Linked DNA regions of Homo sapiens: region 2 is linked to region 1. Evidence: fine-mapped QTL for protein levels in blood plasma. A gene starts in region 1. The other region holds a variant in brackets. All regions are shown on one strand. Distances are from middle to middle.

Region 1 (5,512 bases):
CGTCTCTACTAAAAATACAAAATTAGCCGGGTGTGGTGGCAGATGCCTGTAATCCTAGCTACTTAGGAGGCTGAGGCAGGAGAATTGCTTGAACCTGGGAGGCGGAGGCAGCCTGGGCAACAGGAGCAAGACTCTGTCTCAAAAAAAAAAAAAAAAAAAAAAAAGTGATGTGCTGTTCTTGGTGGTCTGAGTAAGTAAAGGATGAATAAGAAAGACGCCATGTTAAAGAAGCTGAATGTCTGCTAGGAGAGCTAACGCATGTATACAAATAACCAAAATGCAACAAATCCCAGAAGGAATGATCCTGCAGAAACTTCCTGATGAAAAGCTTCAAAAACAGCACCCATAAAGTGCTTTGGGTTTCAAATATAAGCTCAGGTGTTCTGGGCTGGCGAGCTTGCTAGTTAGAGCACAATGCTAAATGGGGCCAAAGGCACAGGCCAGTTACCTGGGGGTAGCTCATCTCAGTGGCCACCAGTGACCTCAAAACCCAGCCAGCCTCATTCCAGAAAGCCACGTTGTGCATAAGTTGAGGGGGGCTGTTGGATACTGGGGAGAGTCCAGCACAATTGTAACTTTTCTATGTCTTCTCTAAGCCCAGATGTCTGCTCTCATTTTAATTTTGCATGATCTTGTAATGGCACCAATCCCAAATCATGTGAATTTAAAATGCCCTAAGCTTCAAAATATACGCTCTCTCTTTATAAAGTTAACATGATTGCTTCTGAGTTTTTAGATAAATTGAATGATTGAGTGCAAAAACACTGTTTAAATCAGAGTGCGATACACATTTTTTAAAATCCCAGTGTAAAAAAAAATATATATATATATTGCTTGGTTTCAGAAGAGAAACAAGCCTTTTGTTGACATGATATCAGGGGAACAGTACTAAAAAAACATCAAAGATAGTCACACACACAAATATCCCAGAGTATTCATAGGGAACACCCTCTGTCTTTCCCATATGCGGTGTGGAAAACGGGGCCAGAACGATCCTGCAGAAACTTCCTGATGAAAACAACCCCGTCAGCCCTTCCCAAGCTTGAGGCCGGCTGCCACGGAACCCCAGCCAGGGCTCCAGCGCTTCCTTCGCGGCTCCAGGGACGCAGTGCCCTGCAGGCATCGCCTGCTTGCAGCCGACTTGAGGGGCTCACGGAGTCCCCTGTGCCCGGGACGCGGCTAGATCCTGGAGAAAACCCCTCCACCCAGCCCCATCTGGCAGATAGACTCCAGATTAGCAACCCCGGAGTCACGTGAGCCAAATTTACGCCGTACCCGGGTTCCAAGGTTAATCACCCCTCGCCCCCTCCGCTTCCCGGCTCCGCCGATGTGCCTCCTCTTCAGGCGGGCCTGGGGTCTGCGTCTCCCAGGCAGCTTTGGGGGTGGAAAAAAGGAGGGGAGCGGGGGAGGGGAAAGGAACTTCTTTGTTCTTTCACCGGATAAACTCAGTTTACGGAATTCTCCAACACCCACTCCCACCCCCAGTGTGCAAATATCTCTGATCCTCACTTGGAGGGCGAACTACTTCATTCATTGAGACTTTTGTGTTCCTGGCCCTAGGCTAAGTATTATCTTGTAAGATCACATTTAAGTTTCCCAACAACCCCCTGAGGTAGGTGTTATTATCCCTATTTTACAGATAAAAAGAAATGAGGTACTGAGAATAGCTTGCCTAGGGTTTTACAATTAATAGATTGGCACAGTTAGGTTTTGAGCCCCAGCCTGTTTTGACCCAAAAGCCCTAATCTTTATAGCTGTTCTTTATATAGCAGGAATAAGAGTAATAACCACTCCTTGCAGAGCAATTACTATATTCCAGGCACGGTGCACGGTATTTCTCCAAACTTCTCTCAGAGGCAGGTTTGCCACTTACCCGTTATGTGGCCTCAGGAAGTTTCTTAACCTCTTTTTGACTCAATTGCCCTGTCTGCAAAATGAGGCTAAAAATATGGTTGTCATGAAGAGTAAAAGAATTAATATATGTAAAGCCTGGCACACATTCATCCCTGAAATTGTTGTTGCTGTTGTTTTTTAACCATCATCTCCATTTCACAGGTAAGGAACCTACCCTTGGAGAGGTGAAGGAGTGAATTAGTCCAGCTTGCCCGCTGCACACCTAGCTGCAGAGAGACCCCGCTCAGAAGCCGTGCGGGATGGGGGCCCCACAGGCAGGTGAATTGCACTTGGCAGGTGGGAGATGAGCTTCTCCGGGGTCGCTGCAGAACGCGCAGCAGCCCGGGAGGCCGTGAATGGTTATCAGTTACCACGCAAGGCTGGGGGTCCGCCCGCTCCGGATTTGCTCGTAGTGCGAGGGCCCCGGCGGTGTGCTGGGGGATCCCGCCGGGCCCACTTAGAAGCACTCGGGGGGACACACCTGTTCGGGACACCTGTGGACGGGGCCCGGCTGCACCGCAGGAGCCCCCCGCCCTGGCCCCCGCGCACACACAGCCCCCCAAGGCGCGGAGGCCGCCGGCCCTCCCGCCCGTCGCGCTCCAGGGCGGAGTTTCCTCCTCTGCTCATTGTTCACGGCCCAGCGCCCGCCCAGCCCCGGCCCCGGCCCCGCCCGGCCCGGCCGCCGCCGCTGGCGGGCTCCTGGGGGAGGGGGAGGGGCGGGGGCGGGGGCGGGGGCCGGCGCTGACGGGACGGGCCAGGAGTAGCCGCAGCCGCCAGTGGGGCCGCAGCCGCGCAGACGCCGCCCAGGACGCAGCCGCCGCCGCCGCCGCTCCTCTGCCACTGGCTCTGCGCCCCAGCCCGGCTCTGCTGCAGCGGCAGGGAGGAAGAGCCGCCGCAGCGCGACTCGGGAGCCCCGGGCCACAGCCTGGCCTCCGGAGCCACCCACAGGCCTCCCCGGGCGGCGCCCACGCTCCTACCGCCCGGACGCGCGGATCCTCCGCCGGCACCGCAGCCACCTGCTCCCGGCCCAGAGGCGACGACACGATGCGCTGCGCGCTGGCGCTCTCGGCGCTGCTGCTACTGTTGTCAACGCCGCCGCTGCTGCCGTCGTCGCCGTCGCCGTCGCCGTCGCCCTCCCAGAATGGTGAGTGGCCGGCCTGGGTTCCGCCGGGACTCCCACCGTGCCCATGTGCCCCCTGCCCGGCCGAGCTGCAGGGAAGCCCGGCGCGCCGCGTGGTCCGACCCCGAGCAGCCCTATCACCGCCGGGGTCACACACGGAGCCCTGACCTTGCACCATCCACGCCCCCTCCAAACTCCGCAGCGCGGCAGGTGCAGGGCCTGGGCGTAGATTCGTCTCCACTCTCCACTCGGGAGGAGTGGGCGGTGGATTCTGCCCGGGCAAACAGGGGCGCGCCGGTGCTAAGTGGGTTTGCATGGGAAAGAAAAGGGAGACCGCACCGCGAGGCTCCACGCTTCTGCGGGACTCTCGGGATCTGATTACACCTTTCCTTCGTGTTGGAGGGAATGAGGGGCTGTAGTGTGTATTCGTTAATTCCAGGCAAAGAGGCAGGCGAGAGGCTCCCGAGGAAGTCCCTGAAGCAGGTGACAAGCCTCCAGCCACGGCCCACGCGGGCGATGTACTTACCCGTTTGCAGAGGTTTTTTCTAAGTAATGTGTGCAGGCTCAACTCCTTGAGCCCGTGCTGGGGCAGGTACAGAGTCGTAAGTGGACCTTCCACAGTCCCAGAGTCACCTGGCTGAGTGGGGGTCCTACCTCCGTGTCCCTAAAACAATCGCTTCTTAGTGCGTGGCTACGATGGTGAGACCCCCCTCGAATCCTCTTGTTCAAACGGGAACTTGTTCAAACGGGAACTTCTCTCTCGTAGAATAGGATTGGGCTGCATTTTAGACACACCTTAGAAAATGTACCTGTCTCTCATGAAACACCTGCACCTCAGAAACATCCCCTCCCTGTTTCTTTTCAAGGTGAAATGTTACTCTTTCCCTTTTGGGGGACAGGCGATGGCTGCAAACTCAACCAGAACAGGTGTTCTTAAGCCCCTAGGGAACAGCCAGAGTCAGCTCAGCCCCACGGGAGAGGTGCATTTCTCATTCTCTTTTGCCCACCTGAGCACATGTCTGCAGGAAGAGCTGAGGTGGTGTGATCACCCTAGGGCCAGGAGGACTGCGGGGACAGCACAGACAGGGTAGGGATTCTGCTGTGAGCAGGTGCCGGCAGTTTGGGACTGGACTCTAAGGGGCCAGGGGAGATGGAAGGGCAGTACAGTCTCTCCTCTGCACCGCAGGAAACCTTTGGTAGTGGGCAGGCGCTGGCACTCAGGGAGCAGGCAGGCGTGGGCATCCTCCTGTGGCCGGCGGGAGACTCCACCAGCCTGACTAGAAAGGGAAGGTCCCGGCGGGGGGAAGAATGTGTGTCCCTGGAAGAGGGGCTGCAGTGTGAGGAACAGTCAGAACAGCTTTCAGAGTGGCAATCACTGAAGAGCCACACGACATGCAGGGTTGAGATGACACGAGAGTATGGTGGCTCCTTAGCCCTACTCTGGGGACAGCTGGACTTCAGGGTGGGCCTTCATACGAACCTTTTGTTGGGAAGCCTCTTAGAACCACCCAGAAGGGCGTTGGGCTGTGTCAGGAAAGAGGGGTTAGTCCCTAGTGCTTCTGAGCTTAAGGAAGCTGAGCCACCCTTCCTTTGAGGAGTGGGAGGCACTGTGGGACAAGACCCTCCCTGTCTGCCCTAAAAGGAAATGTTCATAAGTCACCAGTGGGCAAAGCTCTGACTCCAGCTCACTGCTGGCTTCAAGGATGGCACTGTTTTTCCTGGCACCTGGGCACTGCCAGAAACCATGTCTCTTCCATGAAGCACCACTTCTGGCCTAACACAGGGTTTGGCACATGGCAGAAGTTTGGTATGTGGCAAACAAAAATGACCATAACCCAGTGCCTGCTCTAACCAGCAAGTAACTTGGCCTATCTGAGCACTGTATGCATTATAGTATGCAGCACTGTTGGGAAGCACTTAGAAAAGTGCAAAGTGCTAAGTGGGGGATGGGGAGAGGATGATGATCATGATGGTGATGATGATTTGCATGTATTGAGGCCAGAAAAGGCTTGTGGGGGGCATGTTGCGGCAAGATTGGTCTGTTCAGTAGCTATGGTGCATTCTACACCACCCTCTAGGGACTCAGTAAGGCCAGCTCCATCCCTGTCCTTCTGAAGGTGTGGTCGCCTGGGCTGCTGTCATCGGGAATAGCATAAACACTGCCCCCCATCTGCTGGAATCCTGTGATTTGATTCAAAGCAAGAAAGATTTATAGCTCGAGTCTCTGCAACAAAGGAATTATCCCCAGACAGGTCCATCCCTGCCCCTCTCCCCCAGCTTACCTTCCAATATATGGGCAGATTATGCAGCCTACAGCAAAGAAAGCATTCACCTTAAGGGTTGGACAATTCATCAGACCCCCTTTCAGTGCTTTTTGGTTTGATAACCATCTGGCAGAACCACAATGGTAAGTCACATCTCCGTGCCTCCGTTTCGTTATTTGTGAGATAGAATAAAAGAACCAAAGGGACCTCTAGTTCCACCATGATAAGATATCTG
Region 2 (4,276 bases), 50 kb after region 1:
AACAGACCAAGGTTTAAGACTTCTCTAAGTCAGGACACACCCACAGGACTGGACCCCCCCCTCCCACCCCCCGGTTTCCTCGGCTTTCACTGTGTGACTATTTCCAGTATGCTGAGTTGAGGGACCCTGATCCTAGTTCCTGTTTGCCCCTAGCTCTGGGAGTGACTTTGGTGAGTTGATCTCTTTGGGTTTCAGATGTCTCAATTGAAAATGAGAGGTGAGGCCAGGTGTGGTGGCTTACACCTGTAATCCCAACACTTTGAGAAGCTGAGGCAGGAAGTTTGCTTGAGGCCAGAAGTTCAAGACCAGCCTGGGAAACATAGGAAGACCCTGTTTTTACAGAAAGAAAAGAAAAGCAAGAGAAAATGAGAGGTGTAGTCTGTCTGCTTTAATCGTCTGTGGCTTCACATTTCCTGGTCTGTGGACTATCTGAGAGCCTTGATGGACGAACAGTGCTGGGAGATTCTCCCTCTAACCTGAGGAGCTGATGGGATGGGTGGGAGAGAAAAGGGCCCAGGAATGCAGGAGCCACTGCCAGCATTTCTCCAGTCTGGGTGGTGAGCGTGCGTGTGAGCACACCTGTGTGAGGGAGGTAGCAGTGTGTGAGCAGCCTTCAGGCCACCGGTCTCCATGGGTCCAAAGGCTTTGGTCTGGGGAGTGTGCGCTGTGCACACTCAGTAAATAACTGCCGAGCGCGGCGGGTGCTGGAGATGGCTGGCTCACTGCTGCCCTCTCCCGGTCAGTGCCGGTTTTTTGCAGCCACCCCCTAGGAACTAGAACTAGAACAGACCTGAACACGGTGTCTATAGATAGGATGGAGAATTTGGGCTTACAACACTTTAATGCTGCCTGAATTTTCTGCAGTTGTTTTCTTTTGGGTGTCCATTATGCCGGCATTTTCCAAGTGAACTTTACAAAAGCCTACATCTAGACCAGAGTTTTAAAAGGGAGCAGTGCTCTCCTAGGGCTGGGCTTATTGGACAAGGCAGGCATTGCATGATATGGGCTCTGGGGACAGTCAGGTGCCCGCCCAGCCCTTCCTCAGACCCTCTTTTTGGATGTAGCTTGGTAGGCTGTGTGATTGTTGTGAGACACTTTTTTTTTTTTT[C/T]CCTTTGCTAGAAAAGGAAGATGGAAAACCCTGGATCCCTTCCTGATGTCAGGGTGGGGAATTACTAAGCCTAAGGAAATTCTGGTAGAAACCTTAGGGGTGGTTTGTATGGGTTCTGTGCTAAGCTATCCCTAGAGTCCTTTTCTTTGTCTTAGTCATTTATTCCAGAATCAGGTCAGAGAAGCCCCAGGGAGGGGTGCCCCTAGATGGCATGGCAGGACTGGATACATGCTGCCCACACTTCTCCCCTCATCCTCAGCTCTAAAGCCACGTCAGCCACAATCTTTGTTCTTAGAGCTAAATAAGACCCCCTCCAAGATATCCTAGGGGTAGCTTCAAGATCCCACCTGTTCCCCTACTCAGTGGAGCCCCTTCCCTGTCAGCCTGTCCGTGGCTTCAGAGCCAGAGGCTCTGCCTAGGGCAAGGGCACATGTATTTCAGCTTTGGGGGTAGAGACCCTTCTGCTGAGAGCTGCAGCCTCCCCACCTGATTTCTCCGAACTGGGCATGAAAGGCTGGTGAATGGGAGTTTAGGGGGAATTGGAGTCTCCCTGCGGGCTGTGGGGTAGGGTTGCTGTGCAGTGCCCCCTCTCTAGCCCGTTCTAGGGAGGGAGATGAAAACAACCCCCAATCCGCAAACAGCTTGGAGGGAAAAAAGAGGCACTAGGGTGAAAGGAATGAAAGGTGCAAGCGTAGACCAGATAAACACAGTGCGGAGAACGGGCTGATGGGAACGAGACAGAGGAGGCAGGAACTGGCCCAGGAGAACAGCATGCAACCCTTGATTCCTGGCAGGCCTGCGTGGAGCACCAGCTGGGGCTAGAGAGGGAGGCAGGTTCTAGCACAGCAACAGCACTGTCCCGACCTTAGCTGGGAGGGCAGCCCCACAGGCCTAGGCTGCTGTCACGCTCCCCGCGGAGTCACCTGCGCTCTCCCCACCATAGGCAGGGGGCGCTTCGGATGAGAAATTGATCTCACTGATATGCCGAGCAGTCAAAGCCACCTTCAACCCGGCCCAAGATAAGTGCGGCATACGGCTGGCATCTGTTCCAGGAAGTCAGACCGTGGTCGTCAAAGAAATCACTATTCACAGTGAGTGGAGGGCAAGGGGGCCTGGGCTGGGGCCTGCATGGGTGGGAATGGGGGGCATGCAGAAGCCACATTGGAGGGTGGGTCACAGTGGTGCCCCTTCAGTTCCCTAAGAACTGTCAAGCCACACCCCCTCCCAGGTCACCCGAGAGACACTCAGGAGACTGAGATACGGTGCGTCCCTCTCTTGGGGCGCAGTCCCCGTCCCCCACTGCCTCGCTCTGGGCTGGGCCATTGGGCATCGTCTCCCTCTCCCACAGCTAAGCTCCCTGCCAAGGATGTGTACGAGCGGCTGAAGGACAAATGGGATGAACTAAAGGAGGTAAGCGGCCCCCCAAGTGTGGGGACAGAGTGGCTCCGAAGCCCCTTGTGGGAGGTCTGGTTACTCCCCTCTCTCTGTGGGGAGGAACCCCGTCATGTGCCTGCATGTAGAAGAGGGCGGCGGCACGGACCCTAGCAGACTGCAAGCGGAGGGGCTCTACAGTGAAGCCGGGGGCTGAGGGAGAGAGGATGCCCCCAGCCTGTTCTCTGCCACTTCCCATGCAGGCAGGGGTCAGTGACATGAAGCTAGGGGACCAGGGGCCACCGGAGGAGGCCGAGGACCGCTTCAGCATGCCCCTCATCATCACCATCGTCTGCATGGCATCATTCCTGCTCCTCGTGGCGGCCCTCTATGGCTGCTGCCACCAGCGCCTCTCCCAGAGGAAGGACCAGGTAAGCAGCTGTTTGCAGCCACACAGGGGAAGCAGCCCAGGTCACCAGAGGAACCCTCCCCTCGTGATTCCCGAGTTGCAGAAGAGGAAAGGGAGCAGGCCCTGGACCCTTTCTAACAGGCAGAGGCCACCCCTGATAGGCAGCCGCCTCAGTCCACAGAGCATTACAGAGGCAGCGTGGCAGAGGACAGAGCGTGGGCTTTGGAGTCGGGAAGACTTATTTATTTTTTATTTTATTATTATTATTTTTTTCAGACAGGGTCTTGCTCTGTCACCCAGGCTGGTGTCACCCACTGCAACCTCAAGTGATTCTTGTGCCTCAGCCTCCCCAGTAGCTGGGATTACAGGTGCCCACCACCACGCCCGCCTAATTTTTGTATTTTTACTAGAGATGGGGTTTCGCCATGTTGGCCAGGCTAGTCTCGAACTCCTGACCTCAAGCAATCCGCCTGCCTCAGCCTCCCAAAGTGCTGGGATTACAGGTGTGAGTCACCACGCCTGGACTGGAGTCAGGGAGACTTGGTTAGTCCTGGCCCTGACCTTGAGGAAGTCAGTCAGATGAGCTCTTTGGGCATCAGGTTCCTCATCTGCACAGCAGGGATAACCTCCTTGCAGAGCTGGTCTGAGGATTCATTGATAGAAGCAGGCCTAGGTGTTCTGTCTAACCAAAAATTCTTCTGCCTACCTTACTAGAATTCTCGCCATGATGGTGCCACCCAGACCCTGTGGTTCTCACTCCTGCCTGCACACCGTGGGGAACTTTAGAAAAATTCCCTTGCCTGACTGCCTCCCACACCAATTCAAACAATCTCTGAGTCCATCAGTGTAGTTGTTAAAAGCTCCCCAGGTGATTCTAGCATACACTCAAGGTTGTGTTTGAGAGGGACAGAAAGCGCCTCTGCCAGATGGCTGCTGTCTGCCGCAGGGATGATTCTAGAGACACCGTACCCATCCTGCCCAGGCTTGAGGGCTCAGTCACCCAGCCCGAGAGAGGTCATTTTTTAATAGTGTTTTTCCCATTCATTATGATAGGTGAGGTAGGTGCCTGGAGAGGAGGTTTTGGGGGAAGGGATGAAGGGGAGGAGAGAGCTTAGAGGACTCTGGAGAACAAAGTCCATCTCCACTAACTTCACAGGTTCTGCCACCAGGGTGAGGGTGAGGGGCAAGTCTTTGTTCCCAACTAGTTCCGGGCAGGCTGAGAGCCAGAATGACCACCAGGAGCAGCCAGCCCCACAGGCGAGCAATGAGGGCCTGCTTTAGCTACAGTGGGGCTCCTGAGTGGGAGGGGTACGTACATGCGCTGTATTAAGCTCAGAGCCCTCTGAAACCCCCTTCTCACCGGTCACCTTCCCCACTCTAGCAGCGGC

Alleles and levels. Positions count from the first base shown, and alleles are read on the strand shown. Strength reflects both the effect of a copy and how common the allele is.
With allele C in place of T in region 2, the plasma level of the protein whose gene starts at base 2,669 in region 1 is lower (weak association).

What was found. PIP is the posterior inclusion probability: the model's chance that the variant is causal. Protein levels are from antibody-based Olink assays in UK Biobank. Linkage for the fine-mapping came from a reference panel and not from the study's own genotypes, which makes the PIPs less certain.
Region 2: its variant is fine-mapped to the plasma level of the PODXL protein (UK Biobank, PIP 0.98).

Annotation. Positions count from the first base shown.
Region 1 is chr7:131,553,785-131,559,296 of GRCh38, reverse strand. It overlaps PODXL (podocalyxin like), which reads left to right and starts at 2,669. Exons shown (of 9, transcript NM_001018111.3): 1 at 2,669-3,037. The coding sequence starts at 2,938. RefSeq lists an enhancer at 1,734-2,281 and silencers at 2,249-2,368, 2,399-2,458, 2,539-3,048.
Region 2 is chr7:131,504,502-131,508,777 of GRCh38, reverse strand. It overlaps PODXL (podocalyxin like), which reads left to right. Exons shown (of 9, transcript NM_001018111.3): 6 at 2,052-2,199; 7 at 2,457-2,518; 8 at 2,743-2,910; 9 at 4,270-4,276. Among named protein-coding and RNA genes, the nearest start is that of PODXL, 50 kb to the left of the region's middle. RefSeq lists a silencer at 605-664 and an enhancer at 2,205-3,119. The variant C/T (reference allele first, on the strand shown) is at 1,109.